2 separate regions of the Homo sapiens genome follow, and region 2 is linked to region 1. Evidence: fine-mapped expression QTL. Tissue or cell type: testis. Region 1 holds a variant in brackets; the other region holds the start of a gene. All regions are shown on one strand. Distances are from middle to middle.

The links. PIP is the estimated chance that this variant, and not a neighbour inherited with it, causes the effect.
Region 2: it holds the start of SH3TC2, and the variant in region 1 is fine-mapped to the expression of SH3TC2 in testis (GTEx, PIP above 0.99).

Annotation. Positions count from the first base shown.
Region 1 is chr5:149,135,570-149,146,210 of GRCh38, forward strand. ABLIM3 (actin binding LIM protein family member 3) reads left to right here and starts at 5,924. Exons shown (of 24, transcript NM_014945.5): 1 at 5,924-6,085; 2 at 6,440-6,539. The coding sequence starts at 6,527. LOC124901102 (a long non-coding RNA gene) reads left to right here and starts at 6,547. Exons shown (of 2, transcript XR_007058988.1): 1 at 6,547-7,220; 2 at 7,864-8,029. RefSeq lists a silencer at 5,790-6,039 and enhancers at 6,345-6,846, 6,847-7,346, 10,423-10,592. The variant C/T (reference allele first, on the strand shown) is at 5,537.
Region 2 is chr5:149,058,670-149,067,981 of GRCh38, forward strand. SH3TC2 (SH3 domain and tetratricopeptide repeats 2) reads right to left here and starts at 4,393. Exons shown (of 17, transcript NM_024577.4): 1 at 4,302-4,393. The coding sequence starts at 4,353. It overlaps MIR584 (microRNA 584), which reads right to left and starts at 3,740; the gene lies at 3,644-3,740. SH3TC2-DT (SH3TC2 divergent transcript) reads left to right here and starts at 4,648. Exons shown (of 3, transcript NR_122044.1): 1 at 4,648-5,005; 2 at 5,581-5,689. RefSeq lists a silencer at 4,357-4,651.

The DNA.
Region 1 (10,641 bases):
TTGCTGTGGGTTGCAACACATCAAGATCACAGTGTTCCACTCCAGGCAGTAGAACGTACTGTACAGAGGTCAATGGGGAAATGACTAGCACACACATAGCCACTGACTTCTGCCTTTCCTTTTCCATGCCCTTTCTGGATATTAGGGGATATGATGTCACCTTGTATAAATGCTGTATAAATGCCTGAACCTGAACCCATAATTTATAATGAGATGTAACCACAACCTACTCTGCACAGACTTTAGTTTACAAAGCACACAGTTTCTCATGACATTCCTTGAACAATCCTGAGATATATTCCATGAAGGGATAATTATAACATATAACAATGTGCAGTGAATATTATTATTCATTACAGCTTAGTAGATTGAAACAAAGAATGAATTGATTGCCCAAGGTCACCTAGCTAGGAAGTGAGGGCAAACTAGAGCCCAGATGTTCTGATTCCCAGTTCTTTTCTCTTGCACAGGGCAACAATGGACTTCACTGTTGTGTGGCTGTGAACCCATTTGTAATTATTAATAACTAGAAGAGACATGCATCCTCAGCAGATTCTAAAGCATTTACTGGAAGACCATATTCAGAGACAGAATTTAGGTCTCAAAGAGCCAAGGAAATAAAGAGGGAAGAGGACCAAACATTGGGGAAGGGGGCATGGGAGTTAATTAGCTGAACTCCAAACTGAAATAAATAAGTCCATGTTGTCTGAAAGGCTTTTACTCCATGGATTAATGAAAGATGCTGTTAGGGATGATTTAGCTAGACTGGTCATGGAAGGGAAGGTTTTCCTAGAGCAGAGGCAACTAAGGTAATATCTAGAGCATAACAAGGTTCCAGCTGTGTAAAGAATCAAAAGAGCAAACCAGGTATAGGAAGCAGTGAGTACAAGGTTCCCAAGATGAACAAATTCACGGGAAGGTCAGCGAATTTCCTCTGCTCAGGAAACCAAAGGGGGATAGGGTAGGGGCATGGGATAGAGTGAGCCTTCTCAATGCTTGACCTGGGTAGTCAGTGCTAGAGGAGCTCTGAGGACAGAGTCAAGAAGATGGAACTTAAAGGAATCTTGAGGAAATAACCAGCTTTATTCAAGGGAAACAGAGGAGGTGGGCACTACAAGCAGGAGAACTGAAGCTGAAGAGAAAATGTGGGTCGATAATGAGTAACCCACAAAACCTGGCAATGGACAAGCTTTCAATGGTCAAGGGAGCTCCCAGGAGCAGAGTGAAGCCCCTCTATGCCTAATCTGTAAAATGGAACGTAGGATAGAATGTTCCCTGACATCTTTTTTAGATGGTTCTACCAATAAAATAAAAAACAGCCCAGAGAAGGTTAGCCAAGGGAATGGCAGCACTGAGTCCAGTTTTCAGATCTCCCAAATTCCTATCCAGAGCTGCCTCCACCTCAGCTCCTTCCTTCTGCTGGAAGAATGACCATCAGGAAGGAGGTTTGGGCTGTGGCCACATGTGAGTGTGAGGCCTCAGAAGAATCCTATGGTGGGGCCATCTGCATGGAGCCCCCCTGGAGCCCATGCTGTAGCCTCCGGCACTCTGATCTCAAAGCCAGTTCCTTTGTTTCCCCAAGAAACTTCCCAAAGATGTTGGGAGCCACTTTGATTTTGGTTTTGTTTTCCTTAACATTTCCCCACAAAACAATGTGAGGAACAAGAGGAAAAGCATGGCCCAGTCACAAAGCTATTTCAACCAGAAAAACAGGTCTAAATCCTATCAATTCTACCTAGGTTTCAGAGATCCCCAAGAGAGGAAAGGGGGACAGAAGCTCAGAGAGCTTCATACAAAGCACCACTCCCTGTGGGAAGTCTGTTCTGTGTTCAGGGCCTGGGGCTCAGCACAAACCAGTGGTGTCCCTTGGGGAACAAAAGTCCCTACCCCAACCGAGAATGTGGTCAGATCTGCCAAACTTCAAACTTGGTTCAACCGCTCTATGCTTAGAACCAAGAACACTAGAGCGAAAGGAACTGAAGAAATTATCCAGTCTAATCCTTCAACAGCATTTGCCATCACATATACAATACCCTAAAGAACATACTGTATCTATTTTCTGTAATTTTCTTTTTATTTAATCACATACTATGAAAACCCTCCCCCACAATTATACATAGATCTTTCTCATGTTGTTAACCATAACATATTATTTTTCAAAACTAAGAAAAGAAATAGTCACCTTTGGTAAGATATTCAGATAGTCTAGGGATGGCAAGTAGAAACTATGAGACTACAAGCACCCTCCCCACCATTCCCACACCTTATAGACTAAAAGGACTTTGTATTCAAGATGAGGGTGAGTGAGCATTTATTTGTAAATGAACAGGAGCAGGATGAGGAGGAGGCAGAGATGCAATGGGACGGGAATGAGAGAAAGGCAACCAGAGAGAAAAGTCAGGGGCCAAGAGTTGCCTTGGTCAATAACAGCAATGGGAGGCAGGGAGCAGAAAGTGAGGAGGAGAGCTTGAGATGACCCCAGTTAGGGACAGGGAGTCAGGAAAGATGGGAGCTCTTTGTGGTGAAGAAGAGCCCAGTAACGGCAGCCCAGCAACAGCCCCTGAGGTGCAAGGCCATGGCCATGGGTGAAGCTGGCCCCAAAACCTTTCCTTTTTCCCCTCAGAGAAGTTGGAAGGTTTGTCTCCCAATGATTTTGCCACATGGTTTTTCAACACCCAGAGCCTTTGCCAGTTTCCCGGTGAGATTTGTTTATCTCCATTCTGGAGTCTTAATGTTCAAAACAAACTTCCAGACAAAGGGATCCTCTGCTCTGTGGTTCTCAGCTCCATTCTCCTGCAAGGACAGAGTCAACAACACCGATCCCCTGATGACTTTCACAGCCATGTCCACAGAGAATCCCACCCCCAGCTTCCTCCTGCGTCTTTCCCGCTGCCTCTGATTGTTGTGGACATCCTCAAGGGCATAGCTTGTATAGCTTATTTTAGCCCCTTTTTTCCTATCCTTATAAACTATGCAGAGAAAATAAGATTGTTCCCCCGGCAGATGTTATTTGGGCCTTAAAAAGTGGCCCAAGACCCAGTGATCTCTTCTAAGAGGTGAAGTCATCAGCATCTAGCTGGATACATTATCGAAAAGAACCCCAGACAAGAAGAATTCATCAATTAATCTCATTAATTGATGAATAATTAATTCATTAATTCATCAATTAATTTATCAATTAATTAATCACCTGAAAATTTTCAGGCATATTTTCGTGGCCACCACTCTGTGGAAAAGCCCAACAGATTTCCATAAGTAGAAAATGACAGCATTGTCACTGAGGGCAGGTATAAGTGAGGGGTGATATTAATAATTAGTATGCAACCAGCCTTTATTTGTCATGCATTACACTAAGTCCTTTAATATATACGACAATCCAAAAGGTAGGCACTGTGGTTGTACCCTTGTACAGATGAAAACTTTGAGGCTTATAGAGGCTAAGTATCTTCCCCAAAGTGAGACAGCTAGAAAGTGATGAAGCTGAGATTAAAAGTCAGGAAGGCTGGAAACGGCACCTGGGCTCTTCCCCAGGCCACCATCGGGTTTAGCTAATTTATATTTTGCTTAGTTAATTGTCTCCCCGCTGTCCCAGGATTGGATTTATGCTTATGAGGTTGGAGTTCTTTTTATTTCTTTATTTTTTATTTTTTCTGCAATCATCCATTATTGGGTAGAGCTCTTGTCTGTCCTGTTCTCCACGGTATCCCCAGAAGCCAGCACTGGGGCTACCACAAAGCATACCCTCGATAAATAATTGCTGAGTGAATGAACTAATGAATGAATATCATGCTTTCATTTGACTATTTCTTATAATTTGAAATTTTCTGAACATTGAGGCCTTGGGTGATAACTAAATATGCTCATGGAATAGAACAGTTAATTTTACATGTCTAATTTATCTGAACTTTCTCCCAGAAAAATGTTTTTCCAAGCATTAGAATCTAGCAAGTTACCTGCAACTTGGAAACTGAACAAGGAATCCCATCTGAAAATGTAGAGGACACATAAAGTGGAATAATTTAAATATTTACTAATCACTTACGTTTTCAAAGCTATTTTAGGCCTCTACCCTTTTCAAAGAGCTGTCTATGAATCACCTGGGATGCTTGTTTCAAATGCTGAGCAAGGGAGTCCAGGGCCTGGGAATCTGCATTTTTGGAGGTATCTCAGGCGTTTGTTATCGACACAAAATTTTAAGAACGACCGTGAGGACATTAGGGCTATTTTTACCTCCACCCCATTGGACAAAATTCTTTTTTAAAAAATTATTATTATACTTTAAGTTCTAGGGTACATGTGCACAACGTGCAGGTTTGTTACCTAGGTATACATGTGCCATGTTGGTTTGCTGCACCCATCAACTCATCATTTACATTAGGTATTTCTCCTAATGCTATCCCTCCCCCAGTCCCCTATCCCACAACAAGCCCCAGTGTGTGATGTTCCCCTCCCTGTGTCCATGTGCTCTTATTGTTCAACTCCCACTTATGAGTGAGAACATGTGGACAAAATTCTTAACAATCTATCAAATGTGTTTCAAATCTATTGATCCTTAGGTTTATCCAAAGATTCTTTAATCCTGATCACCTCTCGGGGTCATGAGCCATATCCTTTTTTTCCTCCCTGTGTAAGGTAGAAACGTTGTATTTATCTAAAAGCATTGTATAAAAACATCGTATTTGTCTTTCCCCAATTTTAATAGGGCAGCTATCTAATCTCACACTGATATCCCAGACTTTAGTGCACTGAGCCACTCTCACACAGGATCAAGCTAGAAGTGAGAAGATCTGGTCCGATTCTGCCACAAGATGCTGTGTGTCTTAGGGCACGTTGCCCAGCCTCTCTGACACCCTGTTTCCTTGTCTAAGCTGGGGCTGTGAGTGTTCACAGCCTTTTGAGTCTGCACATGCTCTAATTGAAGTCATGCTATAGACAAGGATCATGTGCCCTCACAGTCTTGTTTTTCAGCACTCAAAAGTCATGCTTCTATGATCATGAATTAGGTTCAGAAAGTGACAGAGTAAGTAGTCACAGGAATGTAAAGAGCCCTACCCCACTGAATCAATTGTGACTAAAACACTTTGGAATATAAACTTCTACAATACACACGTATAAGACATAATTACAAAAAAAAAAAAAAAAACAACAACAACTTGGGGGAAGAGTTAGTTGACCATATGAAAACTAGGGTGGACCTGTGAGGCCACATACCTGCTGTTCTCCTCAGACGGGGAAGTGTTTCAGGGTGGGGCGCCTAGGCAGTCTACTCTTAGGGCTGTGTAATATTAAACCCAGAAAATGTCTGGGTTGCTCTGTCAACAAATATTTATTGGTAGCCACTATATGCCGGGCCCTGTGCTAGGTATTGGGGGCCTGTAGGTGAACCCTACGGACAGACCCATTCTTTCACGGAGCTAACATTCTCGTGGGGAAAAGAGGTAATAAACAATTCTAATGATGAATCAGCGATAGAGGATAAAGGGAATCTGTGAGGGAAGAGGGGACATAAACGCTGGGAGGCTGGAAGAGCCCCTTA[C/T]GTGTTATCCACTTGTCCAGACGCCATATTCATAGTTGAGAAAGATGAGGCAGAGACGGTAGTGACCGGCTTGAGCCTAGACTGCGCCAAGCTTGCCAGAGCAGAGCCGGGTGGAAACTGTCTTCCTGCAAAGCCAGGTTTTCCTTCACGGCCCCTCCTAATGATGTTTCTTTTCCTATCATTGTCGAGCCCTTAGAACCCCAGGATCGAGGGAGGGAAAACAAGCGCTCAAGCACTCCCTCGTTGGTCCCAGGACACAAGGCCTCGTCCATCTCACAAGGCCTCGTCCATCTCCCATCACACCCTAGGGCCCAGGCAGAAGCCCGGCGGGGCGGGGCCTCGGACACGCGCCGGTGCGTCCAGCAGGTGGCAGCAGCGAGCGGCCGCGCCCCCTGCGCTGCCAACCCGCGAGCCCGCATCATGGATGTCGAGCTCCCCTATTTCGCATTGCTAGCCCTGGAATTCGAGACCCCAGACGAGGACCAGGATTCATGAAATCAGTCGCAGGGGCCGGGGCAGGGGCCTCTGGCTCCCGACACTGGCCGAGAGGTGGGTTCCGGGGCGGGTCGCTGCTCCTTGAAGCCGGGCGGGGACGCGCTGCCCCCGCCCTGCCTCCCTGTGGTCCACACCCCCTTTGGGCTCCGGAGCCGCTGGGCAGGAATAGTCCGGGGTGCGCGCGAGCAGGCGCTGCCAACCCCACTTCTGCCCGGGATTCCAATCTGAGGAGCAGGAGGACCGGGGCGCCGGTGTCCTGCCGCCTCCTTCTCCTTGCTCTCACCTGCGCCTATTAGTCCACGCGCCTTCAAGGCCAGGGGCTACAGCCCAGACAGAGAGGGGACAGCAGAGGGAGAGAGAGCACCTGAGGATACAGAGCTGGCACTGGACTGCCTTTTCACCCCCCAGGTGATGAGTGAGGTTCGAAGAACGGAAGATTTAAAAAGCAGCCGGGGCCTCCGTATTGAATGAAAGACCCAGTGCAAAGACATCACCATGAACACTAGCAGTAAGTGGATCCTCCTCTCCTTTGCCATGGGAACAGGGGTGGGGGCGGGAGGTGAGGGAGCCTGCGCTCGGGCTGCCTGGAAAGAGGAAGGAAGCCTGGCATCTCTGGACACATGACCCCCAGGCTCTTTTTTGGTGCTTTCCGTGCTCCTTGGCAGAGGGATAGCTTCATGACTCTGGCTTTTCGTGATAATTTTGCCAATATTTTATCAGCGGCGCCGGCCGCCTCTCCTGGGAAGGCTGCTCGTCTCCTTCTAGCACTGCCTGGGAAGGCCTAGGAAGCAGTGTGTGGCCATTGTCTGACTGTGGGGGCTCTGAGGAGAACTCCCTGCACACATCTGGAAAACCATGGAGGGCCCTGCCTGTCCCAGAGGTGGGAAGAGCAGGGAGGCTGGCCTGTGGGCAGGCGGGAGGGTAGGTGGGTGTGGGCAGGCAGTGGGCTGGGAAGCCGCAGTTTGATAAACAAATAATCGCCAAGCCACCTTTGGGTCTGGAGATTGTGAAAGATCCAGCTCCCGAGTGCCTGCAGCCCGGTGGGCCCAGGGCTGGTTTCTCTATGTACCTGCAGGCTGGTTAGCTATCCTTGAGAACAAGAAGACAGGAACAGCCCTTTGGCCAAGGGCTCTAACATGCCAGAGGCAACAACTGCTTGCAGAGCCAGGACCAGATATTTTGCTGCCAGGTAGGGCCTCAGCTACTGAGAATGCAGTCCGAAATTCAAGAAGGCACAGTCTGTTTCTCTTCAATGTAGCGCTGTGACCTGGGAGGGCATATCTTGGTTCCAGACTCACTCTCCTGCCCTCTTGTCAGCTTGGCCTGTCTAGGTTATTCCAGCATCGCATAGGGCTGTTGAACCAGAGAACCCCTATGAACAGTCACTTCCCTGGGTCTATGACTTTGTTATCAGTCCCCTCTCTGCATCTCAGACTGCTCATCTGTATGATGAGAGGGGTTGAATTAGAAAGCCTTCTAATCGGCCAGGCACCGTGTTCCATGCCTGTAATCCCAGCACTTTGGGAGGCAGAGGCAGGTGGATCACGAGGTCAGGAGTTCGAGACCAGCCTGACCAACATGATGAAACCCCGTCTCTACTAAAAACACAAAAATTAGCCAGGTGTGGTGGTGTGGGCCTGTAATCCCAGCTACTCAAGAGGCTGAGGCAGGAGAATTGCTTGAACCTGGGAGGCAGAGGTTGCAGTGAGCCGAGATCACACCACTGCACTCCAGCCTGGGCGACAGAGTGAGACTCTGTCTCAAAAAATAATAATAATAATAATAAAAGAAAGCCTTCTAATCTAAGAATCTACACTTTTTTTCTTAAAAAGCTAGAGCTGAGCAACAAGGCCAGAACTATCAAGACCTTATTGAAGCTGTATCCAGCCAAAACCTACTATTTCCTCACACACCCCACCCCACCCCCACCTCCTAGCATGGAAGAGAAAAAAAAAAGCAAAAGCTACTGAGATGAAAATAAAATATATTTATTTACTACGTATTTGTATGATTCATCTCTCTGCTGTCTTCCTTTGTGTATTGCATATCTATGCTAAGCTAGCGAGTGTGGCTGGACTCCCTCTGCCTCTTACAGCCAAAGAATTTTGCCTTTTGATTTTGACAGGCTGGAATGGTGTTTTGGCTTCATACCAGGCTCAGGAAAAGAGGAAAATCCTGTAGCCTCTATCAGCTAGTGGGTCACATGTTTGCATTTGCATGTTTTCAGGCAAATAAAGATGTGAGTTGCCTGTCACTTCTCACTATCTCTAGGAAAAAAAAATGTATTTATGAGAGTCCTTTCCCACTAAGTGACAGAAAAGAAAGATGGCTCATCTATTTTTCAAGGAACTAAGAAAAGAAACAGGCAACTGACTCTGCCCTTTTCTCTCTCTGGAATGCTAAGGAACTCTTGTCCTATTAGTAACACTGAGTATTCCTGAAAGAAGGAAACAGACTATCCTTCTTTTAAGAAAAAGAAAGAAAGAAAAGAAAAAAGAATCAATAGAGTTGGATACTGCAGAATATGAGGACTGGCAAAAATGCCACTACTTTTTATAAGCAGGGAGAGTGTGTGAATTTTGCAGTAATGGAAAATGAACAGAGGAGAATGGCTCAGCAGCCTTGGAAGCCCTCCGGGTTCCCCCCAGGAGGAAGTGCTTCTCTAAACAGACACCTGGGGGACACAGCAAGCACAGAGCTTTGAGGGCTTAACTCCATCATCATGGAGGTACCTCCCAAACCCACGAGTCTGCAAATGCAGAGAGTAGACATCAGACCTCACAAGAAAAGGAGTAACAGAGCCATAGGGTGATATGGATAGGGCATTGGCAGGAGGTCCTTGGGTCACCTGACTAAGCAAAAAAGCTCCCCTTTGAGATGTGAAATTCTTAACTTGATCCTCATGCCTGATATTGTCCCTAATAGAAACTCTTGCTTAGTTTTTCTTTCACTTCTATTTATTTAGTCCTTATTCTCCACCAGCCACCATGCTAAGCACTCCCCTGATTGAGCTCACCAGACTGTCCCACCCAACCTGTGAGATGGGTGTTTTTACTCATTTTATGGGTGAAAATTTGAAGCTGTGTTCAGAAACGTTGTAGTTAATGCTCAGTGGCTTCTTCAAGTCATGCAGTTAATTGTTGGGTTATGAAAGGTACTTGGATGTGTAACACATTTGACACTGAGTACAACTCCTAATCAATGATTCAAATGTCAACACTGAAATAGAGGCAAAGCATGAGATTACAATCATCCCTTTGTACACATGGGGATTGGTAAAACTGTGCATACTAAGTCCTGCAGTCAGCCCTGTGGAACCTGCTTATACAAAGAGTCAGCCCTCAGTGTAGGCAGGTTTCAAATTCTGCAAATACTGTATTTTTTTAAATTTCAACTTTTATTTTAGATTCAGAAGGTACATGTGCAGGTTTTGTTACATGGGTATATTGCATGATGCTGAGCTTTGAGATACACTTGATTCCATGACCCAGGTACTGAGCATAGTACCCAATAGTTAGTTTTTCAACTCTTGCTCTCCTCCCTCCCTTCCCCCTCTAGTAGTGCCCAGTGTCTATTTTTGCCATCTTTATGTCCATGAGTACTTAATGTTTAGCTCCCACTTATAAGTGAGAATATGCAGTATTTGGTTTTATGTTCCTGAATTAATTTGCTTAGGATAATGCCTTACAGTTGCATCTATGTTGCTGCAAAGGACATGATTTTGTCCTTTTTTATGGATGCATAGTATTCCATGGTATAAATGTACTACATTTTCTTTACCCAGTACACTGTTGATAAACACCTAGGTTGATTCCGTATCTTTATTATTGTGAATAGTGCTGCAATGAACATATCAGTGTGTGTATCCTTTTGGCAGGATGACTTATTTTCTTTTGGATATATATCCAGTAATGGGATTGCTAGGTCAAATGGTATTTCTGTTTTAAGTTCTTTGAGAATTCTCCAAATTGCTTTCCACAGTGGCTGAACTAATTTACATTCCCATCAACAATGTAAAAGCATCCCTTTTTCTTTGCAGCCTTGCCAGCATCTGTTGTTTTTTGACTTTTTAATAATTGCCATTCTGACTGGTGTGAGATGGTATCTCATTGTGGTTTGGATTTGCATTTCTCTGATTATTAGTGATGTTGAGCATTTTTATTTTTTCATATTTATTCGCCACGTGTATGTCTTTTTTTTTTTGAGATAAGGTCTGGCTCTGTTGTCCAGGCTGATGTTCAGTGTAACAAACATGGAACACTGTAGGCTCAGCCTCCCAAGCTCAAGCGATCCTCCCACCTCAGCCTCCTGAGTAGCTAGGACCGCAGGTGGGTGCCACCAGGCCCAGTTAAGTTTTGTATGTTTATTTTGGTAGATATGGGGTTTTGCCATGTTGCCCAGGCTGATCTCAAACTTCTGGTCTCAAATGCTTCAGCCTCCTAAAGTTCTGGGATTATAGGCATGAGCCACTGTGCCCAGCCCACTTCTATGTCTTCTTTTGAAAAGTGTCTGTTCATGTCTTTTGCCCACTTTTTAATGGTTTTTGGGGGCGTGGGGTTTGTTTTTGTTTTGCTTGTTGAATTGTTTAAGTTCCTTATAGATTCTGGATA
Region 2 (9,312 bases), 78 kb before region 1:
GTGGGAATGAGCTTTGTACATACATGGGATGCTAGAAGCCAGCCTGCGCATGCTGGGGAGGTGGGTAGTTGTGGGACTAAAATGGATAAGTATGGTAGGTTCAAGATGGCAGAGCACTTTAAGGCAGGCAGGGGTGTTTAGAATGGATACAGTAAGCGATGGTGAGGTGTGAAATATTCTTGAGCATGGCAATGGCATAACAAAAGTGAAAATTCTACTTGGGTAACCTGGGAAGGATAAGGAGAGAAAAGCACAATAGGCAGAGAGACCAGCTGAAGAGGTGCTGTGAAAATCCAGGGAGGTGAGTGTAAGAATGTGGGCTGTGGCCCTGGCAATGAGAAGTGAGGGCATAGAGTGAATGAGGCTATATTTTTAAACAAGAAAAGAGAAGGCATCTTGACATATTGAATATGAGGGATAAACATGGGGAAGAGGCAAGAATTGCAGAAAATGAATGAAGGAAGGGATTTAAAAGATCACCTAGCTCCACTCCCAATTTTACTGTTGAGAAACTAAAGGCCCAGAGAGGAGTCATGATTTTACTGAGATCACACAGCAAATTAACAAAAGCGCCAGAGGCCATCCAAATCAATGGGTAGGAATGGGTAGGGACCTTGCCATTTTCTCTACATTAACCTGACCTCAGAACTCTAAAGTCTCGGGCCTCTGATCAGGGAAACATCTCACAACAACTTGCCGAAAATGAGAATTCACCTTCATTTCTCCTCTCTCAGCCTCTCTTTGCTCCTACCCACCCACCACCATGCTCAACTTTAAAAAGAAGACTAAACAGTAAACATTTATCTGCATGTTTTTTTTTTCCTGTACCCACATTTTCTTTTCTTTTTTGACCTAACAGACCTACCATCAGCAGTTTTTATGATGTAAACCCACTTTCTCCTTGTTGGGACGAATAGCATGTTAGAAGTACAGCTACATCTACCCACATGAATATATCTTAGATGATAATGTTTAGCAAAAAAAAAAAAAAAGTTGCATCATGATATCATTTTGTTTAAGTTTTAAAGTCTGCAAAACAATTCTTTGGAATGATTGTGAGTTCATGAATATGTAGTGAAAGCACATAACCATTGAATTCATGAAAGTTATTAACTACATGGAGAGAGAAGGAGAATGAGATTGGAAAGAGATATCCAGGGGCCCCTAAGTATGTTTATGATGTTTTATTTCTTCAAAAAGTAAGAGAAAGAAAAAGGTAAAGTTCTGAAGATAACATGGCATAATGCAAAAATTTGTTACAGCTAGATGGTGGGCTAACTATTCTAATATCCTCTATTATCAGTAGTTTTAAATGCTTTACAAGTCATTTAAAATTCAAAAGTGAAGCATCATTTACTATTATCAGCATTCACCCTTGATCTCCTGTTATTATACTGATGATTCACATTTATCAAAAAGGTTGAAAGGAAAGTTACAAGCACCAGTGATCAACAGAGGCGAATGTATCTCTTCCACATCTTCTATTTAAGGGCATAAATCTGCCAAATTTCTTCAAACAGGCATTGAAAATAAGGGTGAAGTGCTAGAAGTTTTTTGATCAACAAACTTTGACATGGCTTTCTCTGTGATCCAAAGTGAGCAACTGTAGCTTATTAAGCAATGGCAAGAAACAACTCATAGATAGGGTGGGGAAGTCAGAGATGATAGCAACTGATCAGAACCTATCCTCTCACCATGTGCAGTCCCCCCTGATTAGGGGAGTTCTGTGAGCAGTTGAGAGCCATCCCAGGGAACAGATGCTGCAGGCAGAGTCCACATGTAAGAATGCAGGTGCCTGGAGTAGTCAGAGTCAACGTTCATTATTGTGTCACTCCACACAAACTAGTCTGGCAGCTGTCCAGTGCTCAGTGCTATCAAGAGCCTTCTCCTTTCCTGTGTCCATTAGCCCTGAGGACTCACTGTTTTGGTGTCTGCTGTTAACTCTCACTTAAACAGACACAAGGCAGAAGCACCCCAGGAAACATAAGTACAGACTTCTCCAGACCAGTAAGGAATTAGGAGGAAGTGATGTAGGAGTGGCCCATATTAACTAACGATAAAACAGCCTGTAGTTACTGAAGGGTTATCAAAAGCCAGACCTTGTGCTAAGTCCATGAGAGGAATTATTAAATTTAATCCTCACAAAAGTTCCATGGGATAAGTACCACCATTAGATACAGTTTACAGCCAGGAAAACTGAGGTTCAAAAAACATGAGGGACTTGCCCAAGGTCACACAACTATTAAGTTGCTCCAGGATGGGTCTCATACTTTGTTCCTTTTCTCTAGGATAAATAGGGGAATCTGGAATGGGAATATCCAGATCGACTGGACTTGGACCTACAACACCAATATCAACCTCGCTAGGGAAAGGCCCTGACACATACAGGGAATAATATGGGGGAATGGCATGAAAAGTCTCGAGGGAGATACATAGCAGGCTAACTCTTGGTGAAAAGGTGAATGCGGGGTGCCAGCCAGTAATCAATGGCAAAAAGAAGGTGAAAGAATAAAGTAATTGAATGATAGTGTTATTATGATTTTGACCTTTTTCAATATTTTGTTTGTTTGTTTGTTTGTTTTCAGCTGCGTAACTCTGTTCTACAGGAAATCTTTGGCTGAAGGACGATGTCAACTAGAAGCAGAGCCGCTCTAGGTAGGAATGAGGGAACATGAGCAGAGCTCTCTGAGGCACCTCTACACAGCAGTTTACAACCCTAAAATTGTATATATGATTAAATGGAGGCCCAGGGAGAGCGCGAGTTATACTGGGGTCATCAAAATGGAATTAACAATGGTGAATTTTATTGTGCTCAACTAACTGTGCACCAGACTGTTTCACCATTTCACATGTAGACTTAATCTCCACCACAGCTCTATGAAGAAGACATAATCATGTCATAAAAGCTACAGATAAGGAAACTGAAACACAGAGAAGTTAAATAAGTTGTCGAGGCAAGTAAAAGAACCAAGATAAAATCCAGACACTTTGGCCTCAAAGACCAAGTGAGTAGCCAAGATGACAACTGCATAACTAGAGCTAGAGGAAGTCAGATCTAGAACCCCGATCTCCGACCAGTGGTCCTGCACGTCTCCCTCCATGCTGTTTCTACTCTCATGGGGCACAATGACAATAGGACTTAGGGGGAGGGACTGAAAAGTGTTTACATCTGAGAAATCTGGAGAAGCGAAATTGTTCATAGCTAAAGTCGTGCCTTTTGTGCCAAGGGCATCATTTGGGGGGACACTCCCTGCTGTAGGTGCCAAGGTGCCTAGATCAAGACTTCAAGCAGAGGAAGCAGAATATGGTTGTTTTGGGTTCACTTTAATGACCTCAAGTGCCTTCTACAAGCCCAAGTCATAAGACTAAAGAAGAAAGTTGTCTGTCAGAGAGTAGAAAGCCCTCAGCTAGGGGATGCTCCTTAGCTCCTTCTCTCAGGAACCATGGTGGAGCTCCAGGAAGACACAGAGTTCTAACAAGGGTTAGGAATGATTCCTTGGAGCAATGTTCCCCTATCTCCCAAGCAAGCCTCCCCCCACCAATCTAACCCCACATTTCCCCAAAGCCACCACTCATCCTGATAAACACCACACAAGAGAACACAGGGCCCTACCTTGATTCTCCTCTGAAAAAAAGCAAGAAGGTTGCTTCAGGGAGACCAACCAGCCTGGTTGGCCTGGAACTGACATATCCCAGCAAATTCCTCAGTCCCAGGCAAACCATAATGGCTGGTCACCCTAAGTCACTCTCCCATGAGTTGACAATTTCTTAGAGCAACAACTCTCCATTGCCTCAACTTGATGCACACACTCACACATGCACTCACACACAAATCACTCTGTAATAGGTGGAGGCAGGAAACTGCCTGTTTTTCTCCAGTAACAGCAACCCTGACAAAAATAGGCTTGAATGACTAAGGCCAAGTTTATGGCCACCCATAGGCCACAGAGGAACTCACTGCCTGAACTTTCTTCCTGTCCTGGGGGGATCTCGGGAAGAAAGGAAGGAAGGGCTTAGTCACACCCTGGGAGTGGCAGCCAGGAGCAGTGCTGCTCAGCTCCTGACAGAGTAAACTCAAAGGCTCTTTCTTCAGGAAAAAATAGATGCTTCCAGGCTTTGCTCCCTTTTTACAGAGCCAGCATGACAAACACTTACCCAGGGAGGAAGGAGAGGCAGCCAGAAAGCACAATCATCTCCCCATCTTTGGGAGAAAAGTTTCTCCAACCCAGCAGGTCCCTGAGCCTCTACTGGACCATCCACTTTGGCCAAGCCACAGGCCAAGGGCCCCCTGGGAAACTCACCTGGGCCCCGGGTCAGACTCCGCTCCCTGGGGATGCAGAAGCAGCCACCCATGTGTGTACCATCCTACCCTGGCCGAGGCCCTTGGGAACACAGGCCAGAAGAGTGCTGCAAGGGACAGCCTCCCAACGGTGTCCCTCCTCCCGCCTCCTCCCTGGCACACGAGGGACCGAGGCCTGCTCAATGCACAATGCAGCCTTTGATATCCCGGCTACAGCAGGAGGCCCAGGGAGGGTGGGAGGGGCAGCCCAGCCCAGCCTGCAGGCCCACAGCTCCTGCACTGTCAGGCCTGGGGAACAGGGCTCCTCCCTGCCTCTCAGCAGATCGCTTCATGCCTATCAGCCTGCAGCACATTCCTCGCATTCTAGGATTGAGATACACAGTTTGGTTCTTGTGAGGGCAGCCAGGGCTGGGGAGGAGGGCAGAGAACATCCCAGAGATCAAGACTGCTCTTCTTGCTCCCTCCCCGACTGACTTGGCCCACACTGACTGGCCTGCCACCCCTTTACAGTGATCTCCACCCAGTCTCTCTCTGCAAAGGCCTCCCTTGGCTCTCTGATAAAGTTGGAGCTGTGGGTGCAGCATTTCACTTGGACCTAGCAGCATCAATGAGCCAGCTCCTCACTGGGGAACATGCAAACCCCCAGCTGCTGGTGTGCAGGAAAAGAATCCAGGAGATCACCTGATGAAGCCCAGCATTTTACAGGTGAGGGGATGGAGAACCAAATACATCAAAGGATGGGGAGAGGTTGGTCAATAGGTAAAAGGTTAGAGTTACATAGGAGGAGTAAGTTCTAGTGTTCTATTGCACAGTAGGGGGACTACAGTTAATAACGTATTGTATATTTCAACATAGAAGAGAGGATTTTGAATGTTCTCACCACAAAAAAACAATGATGTTTGAGATGATGGATATGATAATTACCTTGATTTGTTCATTACACAATACATAGATATATTGAAACATCACATTCTAGCCCATAAATGTGTAGAATTATTATGTGTCAATTAAAAATAAAACTAAAAGAAAAAATACAGCAAGTCTACAGGTATGCAAGCAAAACTGGTCCCACAAGACTAACCTCTTTCCTGTTTCAGATAGGCAGTGGAGCAGGGGAATCCAGTTGACACTGTGGCTAAATTTCAGAAAACCTCCCATGAGATCTTGCAAAGGAGATGGAGAAAATATGGCTGAATGCCAGCAAGGTAGGACGGAAGCATGACTGCTCTAACAACCAAGCTCAAAGAGCACTGCTCACCCAATGTTTCCTTCATGACTAGAGCAAAGTGGTGAAAGGACCCTGGTGAGAGGCCCAAAGAACAGGAGGTGTGAGCCAAGAGAAGGTCCTGCCAGGCCTATGTTGCAGGCTATTTGGAGGCTGAACTTGAGGTCAGTATCACCAGCATTTTTAGGACGGCAGTGGCCTGATCAAGTTTATATTCTGAGAGGAGCACTTGGGTGACCAGGTGAAGAATGGCCTAGGGGTCAGTCCCACCAGAGATCAGGAGTATCCACCTCACACACCAGCCTAGCCCCAGAGGACAGGGTCTTGAGCCTGTCTCTGAAGCACTGCTCCCGTCTCCATCCTGACTCATCCTGAGACACAGTTACTGAATGTTTACTGTGGGCCAGGCTCTCACTGTACATTATTCTATTCAAATCCCATAACAGCCCCATAATGTAGGCATCATTTCTACTTTGTAAGTGAGGAAACGGATAAAGAGGAGTGTATAACTTGTCCAACTCCCTCCCTTCTCCCACCATTTATGAATGTCAGAGTCAAGACTGAGCAAGGTCTAGTTGATTCCACAGCCCAGAAGAATCACGTTTCTGATACATGGGATACATTGTGGGTTCTCCCATGACTACTAGGACACACAATGAGAAAGGCCTAGGAAGGACTGAAACCTCTGGAGCCAGCTAACCATTTACACAAAGCCCAGGAGATGAGAGCTGGGGCAGGGAGTAGAGCGCAGGAGGGATGGGGTCTCTCTGATCACATTGCCACCGGGGAGGATGTTTTCTCTGTGCAGGTCTATTTAAAGTATCTACTTCCCATACGTTTCTCATGTGTTTCCCTTACTGAAGTACAGTGTTTTTGAATATGAATTCAAATGTTTTCTTGGGCCCACAATGAAAGGACAAGAGTTTCTTTAGAAAACAGCCACTTAAAACTGGGATGTACTTGAAAGTCAGGCAGTGACAAGAAGCCCCATGCTCTAACTTACACACGCTGACAGATGCGCAGACTTATCATTGCTCCTTGGCTGGTCTGCACACCAACCACTCTTACACAGGTACAACAACAATCAGACTATAAATGATCAAAATCAACTATTGAAAGGATCCCAGGCCATGTGTCAGAGATGACACCCTAGGCAGTTGGCTAACACACACATTGCAGCAGGTCTTAAATGAATAGTCCATTCTGGATAAAGTCATTGCTTCCCTTGAGATGCAAGAAACTGTGCTGTTCTGCTCCTGGGTAGCCTGATGAATTGACTAGAGCAAAGAGACTTCCAGCAGGAGCAAAGGCCCTGAAGTAGGAACTTGCTTAGCATGTTAAAGGAAGTGTGGCTGAAGGCTAGTGAGGTAGGTGAGGGCACAGAGATGAAGTCAGAGAAAGCAGCAGGAGACCAAACAGTGTAGGGCCTTAGAGGTCATCTAAGGACTCCAGTTTTTACTCTGAATGAGGTAAGAGCCAATGGAGGACACTAAAGAGAAGAGTAACATGCATGACTTACGGTTTTAAAGGGTCAGCCTGGCTCATGGGCTATAGATGGAACTCCAGATATGCAGCAATTGTAACATCCAGCAGAGAGATGATAATGTCTTGAACCAAAGTGCTATTGGTAGAGGTGATGAAAAGGGTTTAGGTATTAGACACATTTTGAAATAAGGGTGTATTAGTCAAGGTACTCCAGAGAAACAGGACCAATAAAAGTTGAGAAAAAAAAAAATTAACAAATTGGCTCCTGTGAGGGTTGGCAAATCTGAAATCCATAGGGCAGGCCAGCAGTCTGGAGACTCAAGTAAGAGTTGCTATTGCAGTCTTTAGTCAAAATTCCACAGAGCAGCAGACTAGAGACTCATATAAGTTTCCCATGTTGCAGTCAAGAATTCTTGAGAAGAATTTCTTCTTTTTCAGGAAACTTCAGTCTTCAGTCTTAAGGCCTTCAACTGATTGGAAGGCCCCCAGTCAGCTAGTGGGAAGACCCATGCACATTAGAGAGGGTAATCTGCTTTGTTCACTGTCTACTGATGTCAATGTTAATTATCTTTAAAAAAAAATACCTTCAACATCTATTTTGTTCTTTGGTCAAACAACTGGCCACCATAACCTAGCCAAGAGAACACATGAAATTAACCATCACAGAGACCCATGAGGATGTGTTGATACATTGAATGTATGAGAGGAAAAAAAAAAATCTACTTTAGAGTAGTTCTGATTTTTTTTATCTGAACAACTGAAATAATTTAATAATTATTGAAATGTTAAATGCTAGGAGAAAAGAAGCTTTGTGAATTGAAACCAGGAGTTTGGTTTTGTATATGTAATATTTAATAGTCCTTTAGTATATCCAAGCAAATGTAGACAAAGCAATCTGGAGTTCATGGAGAAGTTAAAAGCTGAAGGTAAGTATTTGGGAGTTGTCACTGTGTAGAGGGTATGTAAAGTTAGAAGACCAAGCAAGATCTCTTAAGGCAGAAAGTGGAGGATAGAATACAGAGGATATATCAAGAATGAGCCCTACAAGCACATTAATTTTTATATGAATAAGAAAGGAGTAGAAACCAGCAAAAGCGATAGAGAAATAGTGGCCAGTGAGACGATATGCACCAAGAGCATAAGATGGTACAGAATTCAAGTGAAGAAAGTGTTTCAAGAGCAGAAGGTGATTAACTATGTCAAATGCTGCTAATAAGTAAGATGTGCACAGAGAATTTACCACTGGACATCTTGGTGGAGCAGTGGAGATAAAAGCTAGATTGAGAAAGCTTCAAGAGTATACGGTAAAAAAAAAAAAAAAGTGGAGCTCCAACCCACCTTCAACTCACCACCATCACCATCATTGCCATCATTATGGAATACCTGTTATTCCCTTAATATTTGTTTGGTGTTCAGGGGTTACAAGCTCATATGGCTACAAGAGCCACGCAGCTGATAGAAATGAGTGAACTGGCCAGGAGATAAGTGGCAGCTGATCCCACTGTAATTGCCTAATGGATTCTTTCTGCCTGCTGCACAGACAAAACCAGTTCACTGAGACTGGTATTGCAGCAGAGAAAACCTTTCATTAATGTGAGGCCAGCCATGCAGAACAACCAGGGTTATCACTCCAGTCAATCTCCCTGAAGACTCAGAGTTTAGGGTTTTTCAAGGATAGTTTGGTGGGCAGGCAGGGAGGGGTTGGGTGCTGCTGATTGGTTGGGGGTGCAATCATAGGAATGTGGAAAATAGTCCTCATGCACTGAGTTTGTTTCTAGATGGGAAACACAGGACAGGTGAAGTCATGAGTAATGAGTCTGGGTGGGCTCAGTCAGTTGCCAGAATGTAAAAGTCTGAAAGACATCTCAAAAGACCAATTTTAGGTTCTACAATAGTGGTGTTACCTACAGAAGCAATTGGGGAAGTCACAAATCTTGTGACCTCTGACCACATGACTCCTGAACAATAAGGGATTATAGAAACTATATCTACATTTTAGCAGAATTCAGGTCCCTCCCATAATCTTAATCTTATGGCTTTTCATTAGCCTTACAAAGGCAGTTTCAGCCCCCAAACAACAAGGGAATTCGTTTTAGAGAGGGACTGTTATCATCCTTGCTTCAAAGTTAGACTACAAACTAAGTTCCTCCCATGGTTAGCTTGGCCTACACCTAGGGATGAGCAAAGACAGCCAGCCTGTGAGGCTAGAAGCAAGATGAAATCAGTCACATTAAACTCCTCTCACTGTCATAATCTTTGCAAAAGAAGTTTCACTGGTGTCAAGGTTGGGGCAACAACAGGG